Regions from separate parts of the Homo sapiens genome. Here region 1 is linked to region 2. The links come from fine-mapping of genetic effects on gene expression. A gene starts in region 2. The other region holds a variant in brackets. All regions are shown on one strand. Distances are between the middles of the regions.

Evidence for each region.
Region 1: its variant is fine-mapped to the expression of NET1 in whole blood (TOPMed, PIP 0.91).

The regions. Positions count from the first base shown.
Region 1 is chr10:5,564,540-5,567,450 of GRCh38, forward strand. LOC105376381 (a long non-coding RNA gene) reads right to left here and starts at 2,342. Exons shown (of 2, transcript XR_001747274.2): 1 at 1,997-2,342; 2 at 1-766. The variant G/A (reference allele first, on the strand shown) is at 1,176.
Region 2 is chr10:5,410,926-5,413,836 of GRCh38, forward strand. NET1 (neuroepithelial cell transforming 1) reads left to right here and starts at 1,632. Exons shown (of 12, transcript NM_001047160.3): 1 at 1,632-1,895. The coding sequence starts at 1,768. RefSeq lists a silencer at 1,544-1,973.

The sequences.
Region 1 (2,911 bases), 150 kb after region 2:
CCAGGACTGTGCTGAAAGTCCTGAAACCCAGAGATGAGAGCTCAGCTCAGACCGCACGTGATGCCTCGGTGTGGACATGTGCCCAGCTGAGCGTGCAAGCCCCTAATGGCCGCTCAGCAATGCTTGTGTTTTCTCCCTTGAAACTCTGGAGCAACTGCAGCCAAACATCCTCTGCTCACTCTGTTTGTATCTCTGTCCTCTAAATCAGCCCTCTGACTTCCTCCCCGCCTGCGATGAGACTGTGAAGGAATAACAACATCCGGAGGAGATTGTGCCCCAACTTGGCTGTCGAAGGGGCCTCATCAGCCACCTTCATGGCCCAGACGGTCAAAGGCTGACCCCACAGAGTAAGGCTGGCCCTAGGAAGAGTGGGTGCTGGGCAAGGTCCACCGTGTGCCGCAAGATCCCCCATTTAATGCAAACAACATCTCAATGAAAGATAGCATCAAAGACGGCAGTCTGAAGCCCAGGGAAGGGCGTGGACTTTGAAGTTGGGCAGGTTTGAGTTTAAGTGTTGTTTTGCCACTTCTGCTGTCTGTACCATCTTGGCAATCTGTAAAATGCATATAACACCTCGTGTGTTAGGGTGGGTCCTTGCTGCAATAACAAACAACCCCAGATCTCAGTAACTGCGTGCAATGAAACACCTGCTTCTCCCTCACACGAAGCCGAATGTGATGGTTTCTAGTTACATGGTTCTCTTGGGTGGGCTTCTCCCAGGCCGCAGCTCCACTGAGCTCCATAGTCCCCCGCTGGATCTCCTGCCCTAAAGTGGTCAACAGATGAAGAGAGACGGTGTGAGTATTGGGCAGGAGGTTTCTGGGGCAGCCTGGAGGTGGTGTCCTCCAGCATCACTCCCAGGGGCCCCGGCTGCAAGCAGGACATGCTGAAGCTGCAGTGTTCTGGGAAAGACATAGCCCCGCTTCTGCCACACCTGCCTGGCAGAATTGTCATGTTTTAGGGGACGGCTCGTAAAATGGCTTAACAGGCTCTTGGCCCAGGGACTGCTAGAATAGTGAGTTTCCTTCTTCTCTTCGCCTTTGGTGATGTTGGGGCTGGAAGATTTCTAGAATGAGCTGTGTCTGTAAAGAAGCCTCAAGTCTTTTTTTTTAAGCACCCGCGGATGAGGCTTTTTGAGGCACTAGCCGGGCATCAGAGGCCCAGGGAAGTTCAAG[G/A]GTTCACCCTGATTGGCCTGAACATCTGGGAAGTTCTGGGCTGAGCACGATGACAAATGTGCCTCCCACCCCCACCATCCACACTCATCTACCCACACACACGGGTTCTGTCCTGCCCCGAAGGAAGATGGTTTCAGGATGACTGGATTTCTGAATTTCCTCCGTGCAGATTAAGGAGGCTTAAGAAGCCCGCCTGTTGGGAGGAAGCCTCCGACCGGAGCTGCTCTGGCTGGGAAGGGGTGGCTCAGGGTGGTGCCTGCTGTTCAGCCAGGCTCCCCGAGGCAGGTGGGATGAGACACCTGGGTGGGGCGGGCAGAAGCTCAGAGTCTGCACGGTGCCAGGGAGGATGATGAGGGCGAGGATGGATGAGCCCACAGGGGTGCATACTCCACCTCCCGAAAACACAAGGAGCTCAGCGGCTGCACACACAGGCAGCACAGAAAAGAACAATGGGGCAACTCGAGGGCGTTCTGAGGGTACCTCTTGCCTACATCACCTGGTTTTAGTCATCTCCCACGTGCCTGCCTTCAGGCTGATGGACTTCTGTGAGATCCCTGGGTTGCTGGCTTTGAAAGCCACTGGGTACCGACCACCCACATCTTGGCAGGGGAGCTCCCATTGCTAACATTGCTTCATAAAGTGCCACTGGAGAACAGCTGTTGAGTGGTGACCAGCCCCCAAGGAGTCAACCGCCTTTCCCACCCCCAACTCACCAGAGTCCCATGAGGACACCCCACACTCAAACCCAATCTGGACAAAACTGTCAAGGACCCTAACCCAGGCGTGCCCCCCACCTTCTCATCCAGCTCCCTTTGACTCACTTGGGTGGTCGCAGCCGCCGGCTGTGATTTCTGGCCCATGCCTAGTTATTTTAAAGGCCAAATTTTCACAGCCATGCAACAGGCCCTTATCTCCAGGCCTTCAGATGCTCCCATGTGGCTTGTTTGATTCTCCTTCATATCAGCCCTCTCTCAAGACTCAAATTTCATTTCAAACCAAATTTCTCTTTTCTCCATTCTGTTGACTGGGCATCACCATGGCAACCCCCACCCCCATTGCAAACATCCTCTGAGGAACGGGCCCACATGCAGGGGCTTGAACCTGTCATCGCTGTGAGTCAAGGTGAGATGAGCTCACTTCCCTTGATCAGCCATGAGTACTGAGTGCAGCTTCAATTTGTGTCTTTGTCACTAGGACAACTCTGTGACTAGTGTGCTTCGGTTAGGGCAAAAAGTCCTTCTCCAGGAGAAAGAAGTAAGTAAGTTACCTGCCTTTACAGACAGTTGGTCCAATGGATAAAACAGGGGCTGCCAGAGAACCCTACAGAACAAAAAACCTATCATGCAAGATTATTACATATCTATCTTTTTTTCTCAGAAAAAGGCTGGGTGCTGTGGCTCACACCATAATCCCAGCACTTTGGGAGGCCGAGATGGGTGGATCACCTGAGGTCAGGAGTTCGAGACCAGCCTGGCCAACGTGGTGAAACCCTGTCTCCACTAAAAATGCAAAAATTAGCTGGGTATGATGGCATGTGCCTGTAATCCCAGCTACTCAGGAGGCTGAAGCAGAATTGTTTGAACCAGGGAGACGGAGGTTGCAGTGGGCCTAGAATGCGCCACTCTACTCCAGCCTGGGTGACACAGCCAGACCCGTCTCAAACAAACAAACAAACAAACGAACAAAAACCTACTAAATACCACCTATAACAAAAATGAATTTGAAGATTTCTCACA
Region 2 (2,911 bases):
GCCCTTTTTTCAATCCTCCCTGTGATTGGCTACTTTTAGGGTCCTGCTGATTGGTGCTTTTTACAGAGCACTGATTGGTGCATTTTACAATCCTCTTGCTAGCTACAGAGCACTGATTGGTGTGTTTTACAATCCTCTTGCCAGACAGAAAAGTTCTCCAAGTCCCCACTCTACCCAGGAAGTCTAGCTGGCTTCACATCTCAATGTTACTCCCTAATTTCTTACTCTTTTTAAAACAAAAACATTTTTCCCTCATGTTATAAAGGTACTGCAAATTCAATATGTCCTTATTTTTAAAAAAATTAAATGCAAAAAATAAAAATAAAAATTTTGAATACCTAAAGTCTACCTAGAGACATTTTAATACATTGACTTTTTAATACATTTAATACATTTTAATACATTATCTTTTTTCTTTGTATAATCTCTTGTAATTCATAACTTTGAATATACTGAATATACCTCTATACTTCATGTTTTTATTTCAAATTACCAGTATACTATTACATACTTCACACTTCATTTTTGTTGGCTGAAAATATTCTTCTCAGTGGATGAGCTATAAATCATTGTTTATTTAGGTTGTTTTAAATGTTTCTATTATAAACAATGTCATTAATAGCTTCATGTTTATATAATTTTATTTTTTAGGATAAATTTCCATAAGTGGAAATATACTGGCAAAAGAGAAGTGTTTTTTTGTTTTTTTTTTTTTGGAGACGGAGTCTCGCTCTGTCACTGGGCTGGAGTGCAGTGGCACGGTCTTGGCTCAATTCAAGCTCCGACTCTCTGGTTCAACTAATTCTCCTGCCTCAGCCTCCTGAGTAGCTGGGATTACAGGCATGCGCCACTCTGCCCAGCTAAGTTTTGTATTTTAGTAGCGACAGGGTTTCACCATGTTGGCCAGGATGGTCTTGATCTCCTGATCTCGTGATCCGCCTGCCTCAGCCTCCCAAAGTGCTGGGATTACAGGCGTGAGCCACAGCGCCCGGTCAGGAGAAGCTATTTTTAAAGACTTTGACACATATAAAGCAATATTTAAAATCAAAGAAAGTGTAATTTGTTTAACAATTTTTTTTTTACTTGAAGCGGTCTTTTATTTTATATTATGTCTTTTGCTGACTTTTACAAGCAAAGGATGAAGTCACTTCATTCTGTTTTGCTAGGGAGAGACTGTGTCATGCTTATTGGAAGACATAAGGGCTCATAATTAGATTTTGCTGGTTCCCTAGAGACAGTCCCGGGAACACACTTGCATAACCTTTGGTAATTGGAAATATATCTCATATTGGCCACGTGCACAATAATTCAGTGTGAATATGGCCAATAAACATGCCTTGTTTACAGGTCATTAGTTTGGACCTCTCTTCTCCTCAAATGCTAAGAAAGATCTGGTGAATTAAAATGCTTCCAGTCCATTTGCCTTGGCCTGTAGTGAAAGTCCTAATGAACAATGAAGGAGGTACCGGGCCTTAGGGACTCAGGGATGCGCTCAGGAGTTAAGGGCAAATTTTCCTAGGTTCTTTCCTAGGCAAGTAGATCCCGGGAGCGGTGGAGGGGCGGGACTCCACGTCTCCTAGGAACCGCTGCGCGCTCACTGATTGGCTGATCGCTGCTCAGCCGCCATTTTCAAATCCCCGGATGACGGCGGTGGCGGCTGCAGTCCGCTGACAGGCGCTTTCTGCCTGGCAGAGGCTGGCGGGCATCGTGCCCGTCCCTGCCGGTCTCCCGGGCACCCGGCCACCGCCCCACCCCCTCCTCCGTGCCATGGAGCCCGAGCTGGCGGCTCAGAAGCAGCCTCGACCGCGGAGGCGAAGCCGCCGGGCCTCTGGGCTCAGCACGGAGGGAGCGACGGGGCCTTCGGCCGACACCTCCGGGTCGGAGCTGGACGGGAGGTGAGTGTGGGGGAGGGGAGGGCCGAACGGGAGGTGAGTGTAGGGGAGCGGAGGGCCGAACGGGAGGTGAGTGTTGGAGAGGCAAGGGCCGGGGGGAGGGGAGGGCTGGCCGGGAGTTGGATGTGGGGGGCGGCGAGTGGGGGTGTTGGTGAGGGCCAGGGGGAGGCGAGGGCCGCTGGGAGGTGAGTGGGGGGTGGGGGAGGTGACCGCGGGGTTGGGGGGGGGGACGGGGGCCGCTGGAAGTGAGGGTGGCACAGGCTGGAGTGACAGTGTGCCTGGCCTTGGACCGAGGTCGGTCCTGAGACCCCAAACTGCGATTTTCCCTGCCTGTGGCAAAGGGGCGGGTTTATTGAGTCTCCTCGCCTCCTGACTGTTTCTCAGGGGAGACTTAGGAAAAACCACAATGGTTTTGTTCTGCACACCCAACTGGCTGTAGGCTGGCGTTCCCAAATGCCTTTGCTCAGACCGAAACTGTCATGGTGAGCACCACGAGAATGGGCTTCCATGTCCTGAGAAAGAAAAGACTAAGGGATAAGTTGACTTCGGGATATGTTATGAGATGCCTATTAGAGAGTTCATCACAACCATTTTCGTGTTTTTTCTTTTTACTTTTTGTGGAAGTATACATTGAAATGAGAGTGTATGACTCGTGTTTGGCTCAGTGAAATTTCACAAAGCGAAGCTCAGGGGATAGCTAGTGAATTAGGAGGAAGGGAACCAAGTGAGAACAGTATCCAGGAGGCCAAATGAAGAAAGAATTTCAAGAAGAGGACGTGGCGAGCTATGTCAGATGTTATTGATAGGTCAAATAAAATGAGGATTAAGTAAAATAAGATGAGGATTAAGCTAGATGAGGAATGAAAATTAAATTTGGTAATGAGAAGAGAGTATTGATCTTAGATGGTTTCCAAGAATGGTTACAATATCGAACTTAGAGTGTTTTGCAACAGGTTGAGAAGAGAATGTGCGATTTGTTCAGAAAATAATGTGAGTGCCAACACTAGGAATATGGAAAT